4 linked regions of the Homo sapiens genome follow. The protein of the gene in region 3 purifies or fractionates together with the protein of the main gene of each other region. This does not show direct contact. Each region holds a gene or a part of one and is shown on either strand. Other genes may lie near its edges.

Region 1 (3,500 bases), on a different chromosome or scaffold from region 3:
CCCAGCTTTCAGGCTTAAACCTTCTTCTCTTAAGATGTGGTTTATGTCTCACTTCATTTGGGTGGCCCTCTCTGACCATTGCTCTTTTGCTGATAGCACTTTGGTTTTTAATCATGTGCCATGCTACTGTGCATGTACTACTACTTCTCTCTAAAATTAGACTACCACTCTCCAAACCAGCACCTTTCAGGCAGGGATTTTACCTTATAATTCCTTGTATTTCCAAACACAGCTATACAAAATCAAAAAATGTTGATGACAAAAATTTAATCTTTAAAAAATGGCTTATTTCTTGACTTTTTCATCTGAAAAATAACCAATTATTATTAAATGTGAAACAATTACCTTTAAAAATGCTGGAAGCAGCCTCCATTTTTCCTGTGAGCCAAAACAAGAAGAATATCAGAACTCTGTACCAGCAACAGTACTTTCATAAGTTATTTTAATGTTCCAAAATAAGCAAAGGAAAGTAAATCAAAACAAAAAGAATAATTTTTAAACATTTTTATGGAAATCACATGTGTGCATATGCATATAAATATGTATACACATACATACATACACTACAGGTTTCCTAAACAGAATATAACTTAATCTCTTCCTGATGACTCAAGATTTTAAGCACTTTTCAATCCTTTATTTTATTCTCATGACACTTCCTAAGTGAAGTTTGCCAGTTTGAGAAAAGGAAAATAAGGCTCAGAGAGTCTGGTGGGAGAGCTGGGTCTCAAGACCCAAAGGGAGTTCTTTCTCCCTCCCATTCTCTCTCAACTACTGTCTGGTCAGAGCTCATCTCAGGGCTACAGAAGGATGACACATATGGTGATTGCTTCCTACATTGCCTGAGCAACTAGAGGGATAGAGTTAAAATTGATGGAGGCGAGGAACATTGTAGGAATAGCAGGTTTAGGTGTGGAGGGGCTACTAGAAATTTGGTTTGGGTGTGTTAAGCTTGAGATCTCCATTAGACATTCAGGTGGAAATGTCAAGGAGGCAACAAATGAGTCTTGAATTCGGGAATGGAGTGGCCTGGAGATATAAACTAGGAAGAGATTAACAAGTGGATGGCAATTAAAGGCACGTGATGGATGAGATCACCTATGGAATGTAGATGGAGAAGAGTTCCACAAAGTGAGACCAACCAAGAATAATCCAACAATCAGAGAGGAGGAGCAGGAGGCAGCTCCAGCAAAGGAGACCGAGGAGTGGCCAGGGAAGGTGGCAGACCCCTGGGTATAGTCAAAAACAAGAGAGGCAGGCAAAGCTAATCTATGATGACGGAAATCAAAAGGTGCTTGGGGGGATAGACTGAAAAGGGTCATAAGGGAACTTTCTGGGGTGATGCAATGTCCACATAGAGCACATAACTATAAAACCAATGTAACTGAATATCTAGTATCCATACATTTTATTATATAAATTACACCTAAATTTAAAAATAGAAGAATGACAATGATATAGGTTGAATTGTGTCCCTCTCAAAATTCATATGCTAAAGTCCTAATCCCCAGTATCTCAGAATGTGACTGTTTTTGAAGATGGGGTCTTGACAAAGGTGATTAAGTAAAATGAGTCATTAAGGTGAGCCCTAATCCAATACAACTGGTGTCCTTATAAAAAAGGAGAAATTGGACATAGAGATGCACACAGGGACAATGCCATGTGAAGATGAAGGTAGAGGTCTCAGTGAAGCTTCTGCAAGCCAAGGGATGCCAAAGATTGCCAGCAAACACCTGTAGTAGGGGACGGCCCAGAGCAGATCCTCTCTCATAGCCCTCAGAAGGAGCCAGCTCTGTTGTCACCCTGATCTCAGACTTCTAACTTCCAGAACTATGAGAAAACAAATTTCTGTTGTTTAAGCCACCTAGTTTGTGGTTACTTTGTTACGGCAGCCCTATGAGCTAATACTCCCACATCTTCAAATTCCTCTCTCTACACCCCTTCTTATACTCGTTTCCTCCCACTTCAAAGGAAGGACCATCCATTCCTTGGTCTAAGGCTAACCCTTCCGCCACAGACACAATCCTGCCAACCTTCTCCTGAAGACTGGAAACCTTGCCCCAGTTCAGTCCTTGATATTCAACCTGTTCTATTTAAAACGAGTATTCAAATCCTCCCATTAAAAAAAAAATTTAAAACTTTCTTGACTCAGCAGCTCCTCTGACTACTTTCTTCCCTGCCCTTCAGCTTACGATCTCTCCCAAATTACTCCATATTTAGCTTCTCTGTTCCTCACTTCCCACTCCTTCATTCCGTTATAGTCAGGACTCTGACCTACCTGCCAGTGAAAGAGCTCGACAGAGGTCACCAAGGCTGCTACTTCAAAAGACCTCCCTTGATGCCCCCTCACATTCCCTTTCCACAGTATTTGGCCATGCCGATCACTGTCTTATAACACTCTGTGGTATCATTCTCTTATGTCTTTCCTTCCTCCGGCCGGGCCTTGTCACACCTCTTTTTCTCTGCCACCCTGCAAATTTTGGTGTTCTTCAAAGTTCTATCCCTGGCGATGTCTTTTCTCAAGTAGGGCTGGGAATGGAGGATTTCAAACAACACTGTTTGAAAGTGTTGTTTAGCTTCCCCCATCTCATCCCACAGCCCCCCAGTTCCAAATGTGGGCTCTTTCAAGGGCAGTGACCCTGTCTATCCTGTTACCACAGTGCCTGGCACATAAAAGACTCCAATAAATACTGAATAAATAAATGAGTGAGTGAATATCACTGTTGCAGTAAGCTACTGGGTATGGGCCTGTCCCCTCCAACTATTGACTGGGCAGTGATACCTTACAGCCTCAGAGGCTACTTAAGATCAGTATGTCCAAAATTAAATCTTCCCCCAGCTCCATTCTCAATCTCAATGAATATCACCATTTATCCCAGTCAATCCCAAATTAGATACCCGGGAGTCCTAACTTTCTGACTCTTCTTAATCAACAGGAAAACAAAAATTCTACTGAGTCGACCTCCTTTTAACCTTCCTCGCATTTATCCTCTGCTCCTGTGCCAGTTGAGGCCCTCATAATCTTTCAGCTGGTCTGCGGCAATACTTCCTTACTACTCTTCCTGCTCGTCCCTTTCAATGCTCAGCACTAAAGCCAGTGTACATGTCCTCATGTGCACAGCTGAGCACCTCATTCTCTACAACTCTTCAGTGCCTCCCCACCCTCTTCACCATGTCTTAACTCCACAGCGAGGCATACATCATATGCTGTGCTTGCAGCTGTACTTGTGCCTACGCCTCCTCCTTCTATCTGGAATGCTTCCGCACCACCACACTTCATCCACATCTGGCAAACTCAGTTCAGGCATCACATCCTAGCTACCATTTGTAATACCAAAATACCCCTCGCCTACTTGTATCACAGTACCTATTGCATGTTATTCCACTTGCTTACACGTCTCTCTCTATAAGCCTATAACACACTGGGAGGCAGAAAACACATTTTTTGAACTTGTATAAACCCTGTGAATAATACACCACCAGGTAAGTACTCAGTAACA
Region 2 (3,500 bases), on a different chromosome or scaffold from region 3:
CGGAGGTTGCAGCGAGCTGAGATCACGCCACTGCACTCCAGCCTGGGCGAGAGGTCGAGACTCTGTCTCAAAAAAAAAAAAAAAAAAAAAAAAAAAAGAAAAGAAAATACTTGGTGTATTTAGGCTGGGGACCACAATGATCAGTATGTGATTTTGGCTTATCTATTTTTTTTTTTTTTTTTGAGACAGAGTCTCGCCCTGTTGGCCAGGCTGGAATGCAGTGGCGCGATCTCGGCTCACTGCAGGCTCCGCCTTCCGGGTTCACGCCATTCTCCTGCCTCAGCTTTTTGAGTTGCTGGGACTACAGGCGCCTGCCACCACGCCCGGCTATTATTTTTTTGTATTTTTAGTAGAGACAGGGTTTTGCCGTATTAGCCAGGATGGTCTCGATCTCCTGACCTCATGATCTGCCCTCCTTGGCCTCCCAAAGTGCTGGGATTACAGGGCTTCTCTATTTTTAATAGGCATTAGGAAGATAAGATGGAACCCGATTGTTGAAAGCTTTGAATGTCATTGGATGTTATGAGGAATTACTGAGAGACTGTCAAAGAATATACATAAAGCATTATTTTAGAAAAGTTACTTTGGAAAGTGATGCTTGCTTGGAATAGAAAGAGGCTAGAGGAGGCCAGATGTGGTGGCTCATGCCTGTAATCCCAGCACTTTGGGAGGCCTAGGCAGGCAGATCTCTTGAGGCCAGGAGTTTGAGACCATCCTGGCCAGCTTGGTGAAGCCCCATCTCTACCAAAAAATACAAAAATTAGCCGGGCCTGGTGGTGCGCCTGTAGTCCCAGCTACTTGGGAGGCTGAGGCAGGAGAATCACTTGAACCCAGGAGGTGGAGGCTGCAGTGAGCCGAGATCACGCCACTGCACTCCATCCTGGGTGACAGAGTGAGACCCTGTCTCAAACAAAACAAAACAAAATGAAACAAAACAAAAGAGACTGGAGGAGATAAAAATCTTAGAATAGCCTATGATTAAGATAATAATGACCTAGACTAGATGATGGCACAGATAAGGAGTAGAGGATTGGCTTCCCTTTGGTTCGTTATCACCACCGTTCTCTTTGCCCTTTATCCAGCCCAGCTTGGGAGACTTGAGTGTCAATAATTAATCATTAGTAAAACGTCTGCTTACTCCTGTTTTCTTCTCTGAGACTTGATTTAGAGAAAAGTACACTATCCATTTATCTCTAGAAAGTTGTCCTCATGGATCTTGTTTTATTAGGCAGCAAGTGAATGTTTAATTGAAAAATTTCTTTTTTTTTCTATGAACTAAGCTATATTCCAGCCAGAGTTGGAAATTCTCAGCCCTTTATATAGAATGATTAGGATATTTTGTGTGTTTTTTAAAATAAAAAAATCTTTTTCTTTTGTTAACTCTACTCCTTTGACAGATTAATTTGTATATTTAACTGAAGAGAGGTTTATTTTTTAAAATGTTCTATTGATTAGATTAGAGCATAGTTCTAGTTGTCTGGATTTGTTATCTTTGTTCTCTGGTCACTTTGTATTTTTGATGATGCTTACCAAGGAGAGGGCACAAGAAACTATGTAGATCATTAATGTAAATCCATTTTAACTGTTTCATATAAACTCAGAGCACATGATGTGTACAGTCTTTACTTTTAGTATATTAAGTCTCTTTTTGTCTTCTGCCTTAAGAAAGCAATTAGCAGATCCTTCTGTAGTTGATAAGTGTGTGATGATTGGGTGTGAGATGTGCCTTCCTTAAACCTTGTTACAAACCTTGTTAGCACATTACCTGTCTAATGTGAAAAAAAATTTTTAAGAAAAGAGGAAAAAAGAAAGTGATTTGGTTTAAAACTTAACGTCTATGCAATATGGATATTGACTTTGGGAAGTCCCCATTTCAGTAAAATGGATTAATTTTGCCAGTTTGTAGAGTTGCTTGTACTTAAAATGTTAATGTCAATTAAAATGGAATCACTAAAACTTTTATGGAAAAAATTATTTACCCTTTTCATGTTTTTTTGTTTAATTTCAGCCACGATATTTGCTGAAGTTTGAACAAATTTATCTTTCCAAGCCTACCCATTGGGAAAGAGATGGTGCTCCTTCACCAATGATGCCCAATGAAGCTAGATTAAGGAATCTCACGTAAGAAAGAATTTTTCCTTGTCAGCAGTAGATACTGAAATAGAATTTTGAAAATGTAATTTTAACCACTTGAGGATTTGTTTTAACAGATACCCTATTGCTTAACTGTGATCTACTTTTATTTTCAAAGGTATTCTGCTCCGCTTTATGTTGATATAACAAAAACAGTCATTAAAGAAGGTGAAGAACAACTTCAGACTCAGCATCAGAAAACTTTTATAGGAAAAATTCCAATTATGTTGCGGTCAACTTACTGCCTTTTGAATGGCTTGACAGATCGTGATCTTTGTGAGTTAAATGAATGCCCTTTGGATCCTGGTGGCTATTTCATTATTAATGGATCAGAAAAGGTATAGTAACATTATTTTAAAAAATTACAAAATGGTAGTTAAAATTTAGTTTAAAGTTGAAATGAAAAAAAAAAAAAAAAGAAAGAAAGATTTTCCTGCAGGATAACCTGGCACTGACAGTTGACTTGTTTAGGGTATGACAGCTAAACTTATATAAACCAAAGCTTTATTTAGCTGTATATAACATGCACTGGGAATTTGGTCAGTTTTGGAGTTTATGTATTTCTATGAAGCATTTATGCAAAATGGAGTTTGTAAAGTTGAAGAATTAAATATTTCAGTGAGCCTATATGGTCAGATTAAATTAAGATGCAGATTTTACTCTCTTTTCTCTTCAGTGATGTTTTGGATTTTATGGCTGTAACTTTCTTATTGTCCAAATAGGTTCTGATTGCCCAAGAGAAAATGGCAACAAACACAGTTTATGTGTTTGCCAAAAAGGATTCTAAATATGCCTACACAGGAGAGTGTAGATCATGTCTTGAGAATTCTTCCCGACCCACCAGTACTATATGGGTTAGCATGCTGGCAAGAGGAGGACAGGTATGGACTGGATATGATGCTATTTGGGTTTATTCCTTTGTGCTTTGTTTTAAAATTTACTAGACTGCCTTCTTTGTCCATAGAAGCTTTTCTGGAGCATATTGTTGTTATATATCGTATTGTTTACCTATCGCTGTGTAACAAATTACTCCTCTAGCAACATTTATCATCTCACGGCTTCTGTGAGTCAGGAATCTGGGTGTAGCTTAGCTGGGTCTTTTGGCCAAGCAACTCTCACAAGGCTGCAATCAGATGTTTCCCTGGGCTGCCGTAATCTCAAGAGTCATTCCCATGGTTGTCTGCAGGATTTAGTTCTTCATTGGCTGTTGGACTGAGTCCCAGGTCTTTGCTCGCTGTTGGCTGGAAGCCTTTCTTTGTTCCTTGCCATGTGGGCCTCTGCGTATAGCAGCTGACAGCAGCATAGCAGCTTGCTTCTTCAGAGAGAGTAAGCAAAAAGAGCCATAGAGAGTACGAGCAAGGTGGAAA
Region 3 (3,990 bases):
CGGGAGGCTGAGGCAGGAGAATGGCGTGAACCCGGGAGGCGGAGCTTGCAGTGAGCCGAGATCGCACCACTGCATTCCAGCCGGGGCAACAGAGTGAGGCTCCGTCTCAAAAAAAAAAAAAAAAAAAGACAATATGGGAAGATATAAACTTGGGGTAGAGAGACTTCATAAAATAAGATGGAAAATTATAGGCCAAAGAGGAGAAACTGATAAACATTTCTATATTAAAATGTAAAACTTTTGTTCATCAGAAGTTTCAAAAAAAAAATGAAAAGAGAAGCCACAAAGCAGAATGTTAACTGACCATAGAATCATATCTAGAATATATGATCTATAAGAAAAAGACAGACAAACTAATAGAAAAATTTACACAAGGAACTTGAATGGCTAATAAACATATGAAAAGATGCTAAATATTATCAGTAATCAGAGAAATAGCAAATAAAAACACACTGAGTTTTGTTTTCACAGCCCACAAAATTGCGAATGTTAGGAAATCTTTTTGCAACTAGTGGGAATGAAAATTGGTACAGCCTTTTTGAGAAATGGCTTGGCATTTGTCTGGTGAAGTCTTTGCACATTCTCTATAATTAAGCCTTTCTATTCCTTGGTATAAACCCTAAAAAAATTCTTACACATGTACACCAGCATGTATGTATAAAAATGTTTATAGCTGGATAAACAATGTCGTATATACACACAATGGAATATTAGCCTTTAAAAAAAGGAAGGAAATTCTGACACATGCTACAAGGTGGATGAACCTTGAAGATAATATGCTAAGTGAAATAAGCCAGCACAAAAGGACAAATACTGTATGCTTTCACTTATATGAGGTACCTAGAGAAGTCAGATTAACAGAGACAGAAAGTAGAATGATCATCAAGAGAGGTGGGAATGGGAAGTTAGTGTATAGGGTTTCAGTTCTGTAAGATAAAAAGAGTTCTAAAGATGAATGGTGGTAATAGTTGCACAACAGTGTGAAGGTACTTAATACCACTGTGCTATATACTTAAAAATGCTTATGATGATAAATTTTAGATTATGTATATTTTACCACAATTGTGAACATTTTTTAATTGTAAAAAAAAGTTTATAGTAACATTGTAGTGATAGCAAAAAAATTAGAAACAACTCAATTGTCTATAAATGGTAAAGTGTAATACTCTAACAATGGAATGTAGTACACAGTGAAAATTAATAAGCTACAACTACTTGAATGAATCTTAAAAACATAATTTTAAACAAAAGAAGTGGCTAGGTACGGTGGCTCACACCTATAATTCCAGCACTTTGGGAGGCCAGGGAGAGAAGATAGAGACCAGCCTGGGCAACAAATAGAGACCCCATCTCTACAAAAAAATAAAATAGCCAGGTGTGGTGGCACGCCTGTAGTCCAAGCTACTCAGGAGGCTGAAACCAGAGGATTACTTGAGCCCAGGAGTTTGAGGCTACAGTGAGTGAGACCCTGTCCCTAAAAAAAATAAAATTTAATAAGTGAATGAAGTAAGATAAGAATGTATAACAATATTATTCCATTCAAAAAAATGTTTAAAAATAGGCAAAACTGAATATTTTTTAATAGGGATATGTACACAGGTGCTAAAACTGAAAGGAAATGAGGGAATGATTAACACCAAATTTATGGTAGTGGTTACTTCTGGGGAATGCGGAGGGTGATGCAGTTGGGAAGGGGCACATAGAGGCCTTCAAAGGTTCAGTATCTTATTTCTTACCTTGGGTGGTAGATCTGTAGGTTTCCATTTTATTCTTTGAACGATACATTTATGTTTTATACTCTCAACTGTATGTAGGTAATGTTTCATGATAAGAAAAAAACTAGATTTATAATGTTCTTTTCAGTCTTTTTGCAGCAATTTTTGTTATCAAGCATCTAAGTTTTTTGAAGCACAAATTCCCAAAACTCCAGTATGGGTTCGAGAAGAAGAGAGGTAATTTAAGTCATTGTGTATATACATTTGTTCATATATTCTAATAATTTGTTTCTGCTTTTTGAGATTAGCTGAGAGTAAGTCTAGTTTTCTGTAAAAAGTTACCATTTTATATACTTTATGGGGAAATGGTTATATTTTAAGCATAGCTATTAAGGATTTTACACTTAAAATCAGAAAATGCATACATACAAATGTTATTTGTTTGTTGTTTTAGCTTTAATTGCAAAATCAGAACTTTAACTCCAGTGTCCTGTGATGCTAGTTATGTCTGTGAATCCTGTTAATATAATAATCCTGGAGGAAGAATGTTAAATTTTTTCAGAAGTTACTGGGTCTTAGGATCCAGGTGAACTCTGCTATGAGAAAGGTTAGAAAGTTCAGGTTCATTTAATCTTTATAAAAATCAGTACACTATTTTATCAATTTAAAGACACAATTAAAAAGTAATTTTTTTTTTTGTAAAAAGAGTTTATGGGCAATGCTGGAGTTTAGCCTCTTGGGAAATGATTTAAATACTGGCAATGTTTTACTAGATGCTAAAGTCAAGAAAATTTTATTATTGAGGGTGAAATGGCATGATAATATAAAGGTAACAAGTTATCCTTATGGTAATTAAACTGTATTGCCTAGAAATTCCAATGAAATGCTTAATGAGATAATGCCCAAAATAAATTCATGTTTGAAAGAGTGTATTATAGCAACACAAGGCAGTGTTACTTGTGGTAAGGTAGGACCTATGCTAAATAAACTAATGACCTAAACATAATGAGATGCAGGTTAGCTAAAAAGCTCTGGCTCAAAAAAAAAAAAGCAAACCTTGAAGTCTTTTCTGATGCGTAAGGCGATGTAACACCACTCTCAATTCAAATAACATCAATTATGCTGACAACAGCACCTGTGATGGCAGACACCTCTGCCTGCCGATCCAATCCTGTGTGGTTTAGGATATGGAAAACTTAACACTGTGTGGCCCTTGATAATTGAGTTAAACATAATTAAGACTAAATTGTTCATCATTTCACCACCAGTCTGCCAGCTTCCTTGTTGGGAAAATAAAAGACTCTGGCATTGTTCGACATGACTGGGAAGCTAAGAGTACTTTTTTACTTATCCTTTTTCTCCTTTCTTAATATTTCTGTCACTAGAGCTGCCCAGTACTTCCCCAGTCCTCTGAGAGCAACATGTTTTATTCCCCACTGAAACCAGTGTTTCCTCAAGTTATCCTTAACTTTGCTTCCAAAGATATTTTCTCTACATCTTAAATTTAACCCTTTGTGCCACCCTCATATCTACCTCAACTGCTTCAAAACCATTTACCAAATTACCTTTCCTGCCATCTCTGTTTTCTTCAAGCATAGGTATTGGTCCTTCCTTTAGCTAATTTAAAACAAATCTTCCAGCCTGGTGTAGTGGCTCATGCCTATAATCCCAACACTTTGAGAAGCCAAGGTGGGTGGATCACTTGAGTTTAGGAATTTGAGACCAGCTTAGCCAATATGGTGATACCCTGTCTCTACTAAAAATACAAAAATTAATTGGGTATGGTGGCGGGCACCTGTAATCCCAGCTACTCAGGAGGCTGAGGCAGGAGAATCACTTGAACCTGGGAGGCGGAGGTTGCAGTGAGCCAAGATCGTGCTGCTGAACTCTAGCCTGGGCCACAGAGTGAGATTCTGTCTCAAAAATTAAATAAATAAATAAAATGAAGTAAAACAGGTCTTCCTGTAACCTTTTCCTAAAATCTCACCATCCTCTATTCAGAATGCTCACTGTTTCCCAAAACTTGAAGCCCTTTTACTTTATATTTGCAGTTCTTGAAATTCTACCTTAGCTATATACCCTTCACTACCTCACTAAAAAAGAAAGATGAAAATGTCCTTTGTGCCGGGCGTGGTGGCTTACACCTGTAATCCCAGCACTTTGGGAGGCCGAGGGGGGCAGATCACAAGGTCAAGAGATCGAGACCATCCTGGCCAACATGGTGAAACCCTGTCTCTACTAAAAATACAAAAATTAGCTGGACGTGGTGACACAT
Region 4 (3,500 bases), about 69 Mb from region 3:
ATGTCTCCAGACACTGCCAGATGTCTCCTAGGAAAAGATAATGCCAGTTGAGAATCACTGCTACAGGGTAACAATGAGAACTAACTGAGATAATAGGTCAAGTGCCCGATACAATGTAGATCTTCGACTCCCCTTTGGTTTCCAGGTCCCTTCAGTTCTCCTTCCTATCTCAAGCCTCCTTCTTTCTCCTTTCTGAAAGTTCTTCCTCTTTCACTCCCACAATGGCCACAGGATCTAAGATTCTATTCATAGCACTTCTTCATTACCTACATTATTTTTGAAATTATTTTTTATTGATTCATAATCATATTTTCATGGTATTGTGATAATTTGATATATTCATATAATCAAATCAGGGTAACCTATACTATTTCAAGTGGCATTCTTAGCTACTTCTATAGTTCCAGCAATTGCCTTTATTCTACTTGCCTGCAAAACCAGGCCTTTTCAGAAATTCTAGTCCCACATTTACAAGTTAGAGGAAGGAGCTTTTTTGTGCCTGACAGAAATGGCTTAACGTCAGACCATGACAAGTTACTTCTTTTCTGAATGTTTCTTCACCAATAAAATACAGATTAATACCTGTCTCACAGAATGCATAAGTATTAATTACTTCTTTTCTGATGTTTCTTCACCAATAAAATACAGATAATACCTGCCTCACAGAATGTTGTAAGGATTAAGTAATTACATCAAGAACTTAGGACAATATCTATCATATAACAAGTTTTCAATAAATAGTAGCTGCTATTATTACAGATCATCTCCACCTAAATGTCCCATGGATATCTTAAACTCATGTTGTTCAAAGCTGAAGTGATCTTATCTCTTCTATTTCTGCTACTGACATCACTCTAGGCCTCCTGGTAGGAAACCTTAGTTTCATCTTTTGTTTTGTTTTTAAAGATGGGGTCTCCCTATGCTGCTCAGACTGGTGAAAAGTGGTTATTCACAGGCACAATTATAGCACACTATAGCTTCAAACTCCCAGACTCAAGTGATCCTCCTGTCTCAGCTTCCTGAGTAGCTGGGACTACAGGCACTTGCCACCATACCCAGGTTCATCTTTGAACATACCATAATCCCATGAACTGCCAAATGTATTGCACTTAGTTTAGCAATTTCTCTTAGGCTCACTGACATAACCCTAGTTCAGATGTTCATTACATTCTTATCTGAATTACTGCAATAGTCTTCTAAATGATCCTATTTTTAGACTCCCCAAACCTACCCTACACACTGCTAATTTAATCTTCCTAACACTTAGATGACATAGAAAAATGTTCAACATATACTATTAGGCTTAAAAAACAGATTACAAACCAGTACATACTGTAGTATAATCCTAATTTTATAAAATATGTAAAAAAAAAAAAAAGCTCCCCCTTCCATCCACACATATATACACAAAAAGACAAAGGAGGGGGGAAAAAATCTCTCAAAGGATATACTCCTAAATGGCAAGAAAAGTTATCTCTGGATAGTTGGATTATGGGCAATTTATTTCCTGGTTTGAACTTTTTCCTTTGTTTTCTGCAGTTCCGACAATAAATGTATTATTTTATATAAGAGTTAAACAATTAATAATATAACATATATCCTTCTGTGACTTCCTCACTGCTTATGTTAAAAAGTCATAAATTCTTTGGCATGCACTCAAAGACCTCTATGGCCTTATTCAACTACTCTCCTCTTATCATATTCCCTACTTTCTATTCCCACTGCTACCTGTTCAAATCCATCCACTCCTTCAGGGTTCTGCTCAAATACCTCTAACATAATCATGGCATAAGTGAAAAAAATACCTGATTCTTAAGTCCCTCATTTAAAAATCCTGCTCTTCCAGTTACTGACCTTGGGCAAGTTAACTAAAGCCTCTGAAATTAAAATGTCCTCACCTATAAATGGAGGACAACACAACCTACTTCAAATGGCAGTAATTGAATAACAGAAGGTAGGCCTGAGCGGTGGCTCAGCTCATGCCTGTAATCCTAGCACTTTGGGAAGCCAAGGCAGGTGGACTGCTTGAGCCCAAGAGTTCAAGACCAGCCTGGGCAACATGGCAAAACTCCATCTCTACAAGAAATACAAAAATTAGCTGGGCAGGGTGGCACACGCATGTAGTCCCAGTAACTTGGGAGGCTGAGGTAGAAGGATCACCTGAGCCTTGGGAGGTTGAGGCTGCAGTGAGCCGTGATCGCACCACTGCACTCCAGCCTGGGCAACAGAATGAGACCCTGTCTCAGTCAGTAACAGAAGGTAAAACAAGTGTCTAACACAATGTGTTATTTGCTTCCATCTTGTTTGTAAGGGACATATGTGGCTCAAATTTGCAGCAGTGATAAATCTTGTAATGTTTTACCCAGTGTTCTCTCCAGAATAAACAAAGGCAAGAGAATGTTAATCAAGGAACAGCCTCAAAACTCACTTATCACACTTCCTCAGTTTCCTGAGGGAAGTTTGAGGGGTTCTCTTTAGCTCCCCTAAAACAGTGGTTCCACTCTTGTTCTACTTCTTTTTTCACTTTCTGTACAAACTATGGAAAGTGATCATTTTTATCCATAACCACGGCTTTATCATCCATAAACTCAATTCTCAAATCTGTATCTCCAACTCAGATTTCTTACTGTATCTCAAGATTTAAAAATCAAAGTGTCTACTGAATGTTTAACCTGGGTGTCCCACAAGAAACCTAAACTCAAAATCCTAAAATAAACTTACATTTCCCCCAAAATTGTCTGTCTTCCTACATTCCTTATGGCACCATTATCCACCAAAGACAGAAACCTGAGAGACATCTTATATTCCTCTTTTACCCCCTTTTCTCCATATTCAAGTTCTGTAATCCACCTCAAACATTAAGTCCCACCTGCATCCCAAACATGCCAGGCAGTTTCACGCCTTAGTGTTTTGGAACACATTTATTCCCTCTACCTAGAAAATCTTCCACTTCCTTCTTTGCTTGACTAACTTCTCTCATCCTTTAGAATTGAGCTGAAGGATTTTTCTCCTCTAGAAAACAAAAGCTAACTAGCATTTACTAAACACACACTATATTCTAATCACTGTGCAAAACACTTCGCATGCATTGTCTTGCCTAATACTCTAAATTCAGTGATGAGGTAGGTATTGTTATGTTTCTACAGATGGGGGAGGCCAAGATGTAACTCATGGGAGGTCATATATAAATAGTAAATAGTAGAAATGAAATTCAAACTTAGGTCTGACCCTAGTGCATAAGAATGCTCTTAGCCACCCTACTATACCACAGCTTCCCTTATCCAGCCCCTACCCCCACAATCCTACAACCTCGTGATTAGTTAGGGGTCTCTCCTCTGCTGCCATAATGAAGGGATTGTGCAGCACACTATAAATCTTTATTGTTTGGTTTGTCTTTTCTCAAATGAGTCTGAGTAAAGCAATTTGAAGACAAAGTCTGTTTCATGTACAATAGTCTCTCATTATCCAGAGTTATCCAATGTCTGAAAATAAATGGAAAA

What was found. The genes of interacting proteins can lie anywhere in the genome.
Region 1: the proteins of RPAP2 (region 3) and POLR3B purify together in Homo sapiens (affinity purification with mass spectrometry; 2 studies listed by BioGRID). This does not show direct contact.
Region 2: the proteins of RPAP2 (region 3) and POLR2B purify together in Homo sapiens (affinity purification with mass spectrometry; 3 studies listed by BioGRID and IntAct, with this or other methods). This does not show direct contact.
Region 4: the proteins of RPAP2 (region 3) and PFDN2 purify together in Homo sapiens (co-immunoprecipitation; 3 studies listed by BioGRID and IntAct, with this or other methods). This does not show direct contact.

The regions. Positions count from the first base shown.
Region 1 is NC_000012.12:106,360,748-106,364,247, reverse strand, and holds part of POLR3B (DNA-directed RNA polymerase III subunit RPC2), read right to left. Parts: intron 379-3,500; coding exon 346-378; intron 1-345. UniProt on the Homo sapiens protein: Catalytic core component of RNA polymerase III (Pol III), a DNA-dependent RNA polymerase which synthesizes small non-coding RNAs using the four ribonucleoside triphosphates as substrates.
Region 2 is NC_000004.12:56,992,396-56,995,895, forward strand, and holds part of POLR2B (DNA-directed RNA polymerase II subunit RPB2), read left to right. Parts: intron 1-1,679; exon of another isoform or gene 1,680-1,775; intron 1,776-2,008; coding exon 2,009-2,121; intron 2,122-2,251; coding exon 2,252-2,471; intron 2,472-2,855; coding exon 2,856-3,014; intron 3,015-3,500. UniProt on the Homo sapiens protein: Catalytic core component of RNA polymerase II (Pol II), a DNA-dependent RNA polymerase which synthesizes mRNA precursors and many functional non-coding RNAs using the four ribonucleoside triphosphates as substrates.
Region 3 is NC_000001.11:92,305,325-92,309,314, forward strand, and holds part of RPAP2 (putative RNA polymerase II subunit B1 CTD phosphatase RPAP2), read left to right. Parts: intron 1-1,863; coding exon 1,864-1,952; intron 1,953-3,990.
Region 4 is NC_000001.11:161,111,538-161,115,037, forward strand, and holds part of PFDN2 (prefoldin subunit 2), read right to left. Parts: intron 1-3,500. UniProt on the Homo sapiens protein: Binds specifically to cytosolic chaperonin (c-CPN) and transfers target proteins to it. Binds to nascent polypeptide chain and promotes folding in an environment in which there are many competing pathways for nonnative proteins.